Homo sapiens: one gene and its partner. The protein of the gene in region 1 interacts with the protein of each later gene in a pairwise test. Each region holds a gene or a part of one and is shown on either strand. Other genes may lie near its edges.

The links. Proteins that work in one complex are often made in the same cells at the same time.
Region 2: the proteins of NDUFV2 (region 1) and MAGEA2 interact in binary tests that used the Homo sapiens proteins (3 or more experiments, as listed by UniProt).

What each region holds. Positions count from the first base shown.
Region 1 is NC_000018.10:9,109,079-9,112,731, forward strand, and holds part of NDUFV2 (NADH dehydrogenase [ubiquinone] flavoprotein 2, mitochondrial precursor), read left to right. Parts: intron 1-2,959; exon of another isoform or gene 2,960-3,653.
Region 2 is NC_000023.11:152,751,703-152,755,455, forward strand, and holds the start of MAGEA2 (melanoma-associated antigen 2), read right to left. Parts: upstream 2,141-3,753; 5' UTR 2,086-2,140; exon of another isoform or gene 1,840-2,085; intron 1,690-1,839; 5' UTR 1,611-1,689; intron 812-1,610; 5' UTR 692-811; intron 121-691; exon of another isoform or gene 23-120; intron 1-22. UniProt on the Homo sapiens protein: Reduces p53/TP53 transactivation function through recruitment of HDAC3 to p53/TP53 transcription sites. Also represses p73/TP73 activity. Proposed to enhance ubiquitin ligase activity of RING-type zinc finger-containing E3 ubiquitin-protein ligases.

The DNA.
Region 1 (3,653 bases):
TGAGCTGGCAATAGGGGAGGCTGTAGGTAACAAGTCAGCAGATGTTGTGAACAGTGAGAGGAAGGCACGGAGGGACCTCAGACCACTTTGGATTCACTAGAGATGTTTCATGTGTGCACTGTGACTCTTGCACAGGCAAATAGATATCTTGGTGGATTTAATCTGTAAATATTAGGGATCATCTAAAAGGTATATTCCTTGCCTTAGTTGGCCTCTAATAAAGGAAAAAAGAAGGGTTTTTGAATTGCCTGACCTTAGTCTTGTCTTTCTGACTAATTAGATTACTGCTTCTGTCAGTTTTGTCTTACAGCTTCTTAGTCTCTTATTAACTTCTCTTAGCTGGATGCATTTATAATGCAAATGTCTGATAGAACTGAAAAGTGAGCTTCGTTGGATGGTAGTATTGTTTGAACAACAGAAGAAATTCAGAAAAAGAGTAGAGCCCATGAAAAGACAATTAAGGAATCCTATTGGGGAGAATATAAAACTTTAATTTTTGTCATTTTGAGCTATTGGTATTGCCAGTGACAGTAAAAGGGAAAGGCTGGTAGAAAGAGCACAGGGCCCTTAGATTGAAAGAGCCTGGGCTCAAAATCCAGGTCTGTCACTAATTGTGCGGTATGGGGCAAGTTACTGTCTTTGAGCCTGAGTTTCTCTAAATGTAAAATGGAAATAATGACTCACTACAGATTTTTTAGGAATCGACGAAAAAAAGTATGTAGAAGAGCTTAACACAGAGGCACTCAAGTTTACTTGACTCCAACGAAAAGGCAGTCACTGTTTTGGCCTGCTTAAATCTTTTCTTTTCCTTCTGAAACACTGAAAAAAAAATAAGCTAGAATTCAAACCCACTGTTAATTTTGAGCTGTATATTAGGTTATGATCTTATTTACTTAAAAAAGTTACTTGGTTGCATGCTTTTCTTCTTAAAAAAAGGAAGTTACTTGGATTTTCAATTGGACTCAATTGGAATTTCTTGAGGTATAGACATTTCAGAGTCTAATGAGAAGCTAGATTCTAGAGAAAAGACTAGACTGTACTCAAAGAAGGGGGTGGGTGGGAACTCAGCTTATTCTTTGAATCATTCCAGCCTAGCTAGGTTGTTTTTTCCAGTTTTAAGCCTGGTCCTGGAATGCCTCTTTATTTCAAAGTGAAACAAAATTGAAATGGCCCAGTAAGTAGTGTAAAGATGTTAATGAGAACTTTTAATGTTTTATTCCTTTATTGAAAGTGTCTGACGTAGACATTACAATGAATGTAAAATAGGTGATATTCTTTAAACACACCAAAAAAACAATTTTCAAAGCCATTTTCAGGCCACCTGTAACTTGATAGGGATGAATAACAGTTTATGCCAGTTGAAAAAAACCGAGAGCTAAGATTTATCAGTTTATCTTCACTATTTAGTTTGTTTCTTTCTTTATTGTTTGTTTACTTACTACTTTTTTGAGACAGGGTCTCACTCTGTCTCCCAGGCTTGGGTGCAGTGCATGATCATGGCTCGCTGCAACCTCAACCTCTTGGGCGCAAGCGATGCTCCCACCTCAGCCTCTCAAGTGGCTGGGACTACAGGCATGTGCCACCATGCCTGGCTAACTTTTGTATTTTTTGTAGAGACAGGGTTTCACCATGTTGCCCACGCTGATATCAAACCCCTGGCTTCAAGCGATCTATGGGGCTTGGCTTTCCAAAGTTCTGGGATTATGGGTGTGAGCCACCGTGTCTGGCCAGCTTCTTTTATTTTATAAACATTATCTCAGCCCTTCTTATACAACTTTGAAGAGGTCGACTTCGGACTTTGAAATTAAGTTGCTCAAATGTTATGCTAGTGTGTATACGTTCAGGTTTTTTGCAGGAATAGAAGAGAAGGGTGGCAAGGATTAAAAAAAGATTAAATAACTTGCATCTTTCTCTCTTAACAGGAGCATTGTAAGCCAAGGAGGCAGGGCTTTTCATTTCTTATCTGCCTGCCTGTATATATGGAGGCCTGATTTTCTTCCTTAAACTCCTTGGTTTCTTAGACCTACTATGTTCTTTTAAAGCTTTGATGTCATCAAACAGTCAGGTGGCTAATAATAAGGTCATGGCCTTTGTAATCATCTGGCCCTAGGATCTAACATAATTTCTGCCAATAATTAGTGATGTGACCTAACCTTGAGAAGTTTTCATAACTCATTTAAATTTCTGGGAATAATACCCACCTTGCAGGAAACTTTAAGAATTAAATAATGTGTAAAAAGCTTAGTGCCTGACACATAGTACTTCTAATAATAATAGCTAATGATAGCCAACACTAATACAGTACTTACCATCTGCCAAGCAGAATATTAAGCACTTTACATGAAGTACATCTTTTTTTTTTCCCCCCGAGACAGAGTCTCACTCTGTTGCCCAGGCTGGAGTGCTGTGGCACGAGCTGGGCTCACTGCAACCTCTGCATCCTGAGTTCAAGCGATTCTCCTGCCTCAGCCTCCTGGTTAGCTGGGATTACAGGCACGTGCCACCACGCCCAGCTAATTTTTGTATTTTTAGTAGGGATGGGGTCTCATCATGTTGGCTAGGCTGGTCTCGAACTCATGACCTCAGGTGATCCGTCCGCCTCAGCCTCCTAAAGTGATGGGATTACAGGCATGAGCTACTGTGCCCGGCCTGAAGTACATCTTTTAATGCTCTCAAGAACCCTATGAAGTACATGCCGTTATTTTTCTGTTTTTATAAATGAGGAAACAGGCTCTAGAGCTGAGCTTTTAGCCATTTTGCTATATTGTCTCTCCATACATAGGATATTTATGGAATATTAGATAACAGTGATACATCCCACCTTCAGAGGTGCTAGAATGTGGAAAATGTGTTTATTAGAAATGATGAAATTGACATTTCATATACTAGAACGTGTTTGGTGTTGGTCATCTTTTACACCACACTCAGCATCAGAAGGGTTTTTTTTTTTTTTTTTTTGATAGAGAATCTCGCTCTGTCGCCCAGGCAGGAATGCAGTGGCTCGATCTCAGCTCACTGCAACCTCCACCTCCTGGGTTCAAGCAATTCTCCTGTCTCAGCCTCCCAAGTAGCTGGGACTACAGGTGTGCGCCACCACACGCGGTGAATTTTTGTATTTTTAGTAGAGATGGGGTTTCACCATATTGGCCAGGCTGATCTCGAACTCCTGACTTTGTGATCTGCCCACCTTGGCCTCCCAAAGTGCTGGGTTTACAGACGTGAGCCACTGCGCCTGGCCAGAAGGATGGTACTTTTAAAATTAGTTTGGTGATATTAGACAGGATGTTTTGGATTGAGAAAAAGGGATCAGCCAGAAGACTTACAGTAATGCACAGACATGAAATAATGTCTGAAATAGTGGTGATAGTAAGACAGGGAAAGAACTAAAGACTTCATTGGGTTTTTTTGTTTGTTTTTGTTTTGAGACAGGGTCTCACTTTGTCACCCAGACTGGAGTGCAGTGGTGTGATCTCAGCTCACTGCAACCTTCACCTCCCAGGTTCAGGCGATTCTCCCACCTCAGCCTCCTGAGTAGCTGGGACTACAGGTGTGCGCCACCACACCCGGCCAATTTTTGTATTTTTTGGTAGAGATGCAGTTTCACCACGTTGGCCAGGCTGGTCTTGAACTCCTGACCTCAAGTGATACGCTTG
Region 2 (3,753 bases), on another chromosome or scaffold:
TTGGTGTGCATTCCAGGCAAACCTTCAGTGTTGGCACTGTCTGCGTCCCCTCTGCTCTGTGACCTGAGGACACTGACTCAGACCAAGGCCTCACTGCCTGGTTCCTGGAGCTCCTGATTCCTGGGAGAGGAATGCACGGGCCTTCAGTGTGCAGACTGCAAGCACAGCCACGGATTCCCAGAAGTCTCAGCAGGGTTGGCCAGACTCCGTGAGGTCCCCACTCTACTTGGGTGGAGGGTCCCCTCTGTGCTCACTCAGGGCCCTCACCTTTCTCCTTGTAGGGCCTAATCCCACCCTTTTGCTGGCTTGAGAATCTCTCATGTCAAGAACTCACATCCCTGATATGGTACAGAAGGAGATGAGGGGACCCACATCTGGCCATACGTGACCAGGTCCTCCCGCGAAGGACAACGAGAGATGTCCAAATTCATTGGAGTCCAGGTGTCCTGGGTGACGAGTCCGCTTGGTCCTCACGTCCACTCCTGGCAGGGCCTGAGACCCTCCCTCTACTGACCTGACTCCAGCCCCTTCAGACCAAGGCCTCCCCTTCCCTGACATCAAAGATCCCAGGATAATGGAGGGACTTCAGCTGACAGCCCTGCCCAGGGTCTCTGAAGTAACCGCAGGGGCAGGGCAGATTTCTATGGGGCCCCCTGTCTGCATTCTGGCCCAGGAGTACCCTCAATCCTACCTCAGGCTCTCCACCTGGATGCTTGGCAGATCCTAGAACCACTGCATCTGTCGACCAGATGGGGGCCCCTGTGTTGACCTGAGTCACCTTCTGAAAACAAGGTCATCAACTCCCTGAGATCTGGAAACAGAAGTGAGGAGGGGCCACATCCTGTTACCCCCACGTGCGTTGTCCAGGGCTGACCCCTTTGGTTCTAGGGTGAACGTTATGATGGCCTCCTGTGGGTTACTCATCTTTACTCCTGCCAGGGACTGCCCTTTCTCAACCCCCAACCCCCTGAAATGAGCAGACAGCTCCTCTTTACACCAACACCTTATCTCCCTGAGGGTTCCCCAACCTCCTGCCTGTGGTACAAATGAGATTGTCACTTAGGGCCATCCCTGATCAGGTTCCCCCAGAGCTAAGAACAAGGGACGGCCAGACTCTGTGGCATCCCTTCTTTCTGGGCCGGGGGTATCCCCAGTCCTCATGAAGGGGGCACACCTTGGGTCCGGCAGATCCTGGGATTCCTCCCTCTGCTGACCTGAAGTCCCAGCCCTCAGACCACAGCCCTCAACTCTCTGTCACCCTGAAGGTGCAATGAGCACGGGGCACATTCGGCCACTGTGCCCAGGATCCCCCAGCCCAAGGTTGCCACTGATCTGGACTCCAAGGTCCCCTCAGTCCTCCCTCTTCTTCCTCCCCTTGACTCCTCGCAGGGCTGGGCCCCAACCCCCTGCTGAAGTGGGTCTGCATCCCTAGGATTCCCGCGGCTGAATGAAAAGGTGGCTCAGTTTGAGACAGGGGTACAGTGGGCCCCCTGTCCTGGCATGCTGGGTCCCCTAAGGACTCCACTGTCTTCCAGGAGGGCCTGGGCCCTTCCTCTGCATCCCAAAGGCCATACTCACGAGACCCAACCCCTTCCCTCCCTTAGCCGTACATGTGAACGTCAGGATCCGCGTGCTTGGCCGCCATTCCCGGAGCTTCCGTGGGTTGATTGCAGGGGCAAAGCCCGGATTCTGCCAGGATGGTGGTGGGGGAGGAGATGGGAATGGGGTTTGGGGGTGGGGTTGGTGTTTGAGGGATGGGGGTGGGGTTGGTGTTGGGGGATGGGATTGGTAGTGAGGGTAGGGGGTGGGTTGCCCTCAGTCCCCTCTTGGGGTCCTGACCTTGATTCCTGGCTGAGTCTGGGCCCTGAGCACTTCTAACCAGCCCTGCCCTGGTCACACAAAGCTCTTACGCCAGAGTTCCCTGCGGTTAAAGCGGCGGGGGGTGGCGGGGTGAGGTGGTGGCGACTCAGCCTGAGAAGTCTTCCCCTGCAGGGTGGTCCAGGCCCGGCAGCAGAGGCAGCGCTGGATTATTGGGGGCCCTCTGTCTGGGGTGAGGCCCGCCTCAGTCCTCCCTCGGCGTCTTACCTTGCCTCCTCACGGAGCCTGCGCCTGCTTCCCTCCGCCGACGTCAGGCCGTTGCTCAGGGCGAGAATCTCGCTGTCCTCTGACCTCCAATGCGCAAGTCAGTGGCGTCACATCCGGGCCCGTGACTTCCCTGGGTTCACGGCAAGGGTGGAACCGGATTCTGCCCGGATGGGGATCTGGATGGGGGGGTGGGGGTAAGCATGAAGATGGTGTTGGTGTAGGGGTAGGGATTGGGACGGGGATCCTGAGGCTGTAGATCCTGGTGGGGTCGGGGGAGTTGGGGGTGGGAGGGGCCTTTGGTCATCCCTCAAGGTCCTGACTTGGATGCCAGACTGAGCCTGGACCGCCATCCTCTGCCGATTGTGTTTGCTCCCCTCAGACCAAGTCTCTGACTCTGAGTCGGCCCGAAGTGGCATTGGGGGGAGGGGTGTGCTCGGGGTGAGATCATTGCCAGTGTGTACCAGGGCTGACAAGAGGGGCTGAGCTGGATTCTGTGGTCCCACTATGTGGGTGAGGGTGGATCCTCAGTCCTCACTCAGGAGGGTCCTCTTCCTCACTCCTGGCTGTTTGATGAAGGAATGGGTGGGAGATGCTCTGTTTCTGTCACCTCTGAGCATCTGCGCATCTGCGCATCTGCACCCCTTGTAGAGAATGGCTGCGGGTGCCAGGCCAGGTGCTCCCTGCAGGGCAGGAGCTCCCGCGATGATAGTGACCTCTGGGAGAAGACGCACACCTTCCCACGGGGGCTCCTCCCCAGCCAGAGCTACACTTGGCAAACCTTTGGTCCTAAATGATTTATTCTCTGAATTGAAGAAATACGGTTTACATATCTTCTAAGTATATATGTAGGTAGCAATATATATATTTATTTCTATGAACTAACACCTACCCTTAGTATGCATGATTCACTCTGATATCCTAGTCTACTTCCATTCCAGTCTTTGTGTTCTGTTGAAAGAATTTTTTTAAAAAACATAATTCCTCTCCCACTCTGTTGGTTTCAGGTTGTTATTAGCAGAACTCTGGAGCCATGCTGCCTTAACAAACCCAATTTTCCTGGTGGACACTGCTATTACCTAGGGCTCTTGGCATCGTGTTTTCAGGGGCTGCCTCAGATTGTGCAATGAAGTGAAGTGGAAAATTCAAAACTTTTATTCTACCCATTCTTTCATCTGCCGTCTAGGCAGGCTACAAACCTCCCCAACATCTCTGCCGCTAACCCCCTCCAACAGACACTGCAAGTGTCACACACAAGTACCAGCTCAACACAGTCTCCAGTCTCACTCTGGGCTTTCCCTGTTTTGTTGTGTAGATTTTCTTGCTGATACTGGTGTTTTACTTTCTGTTTCCATTCTATAAATTTACAGGGTTGATTTGGGAAGCAGAGCACAGCAGCCCAAATTTGCTTGTAATGTCGGCGGCTACAGGTAAGGCACTAAATTGTAAATAATTTAAGCTGAGTTTACATTTTTACACTGTTGTGTTCCCCGTGAATGAATATGTTATACTCCTCTATGGATTTCAAGCTCTTTTTTCCTGAATATGTCAGTATACTTCGGTAGTTGCCTCTATAAACAACTTATACATTTTTATTAGGCTTCTATTCAGGTAATTCTTGGATTTTGTTGCTATTGCAAGTGGCATATTGTCTATCAATTGTTGTAGTTA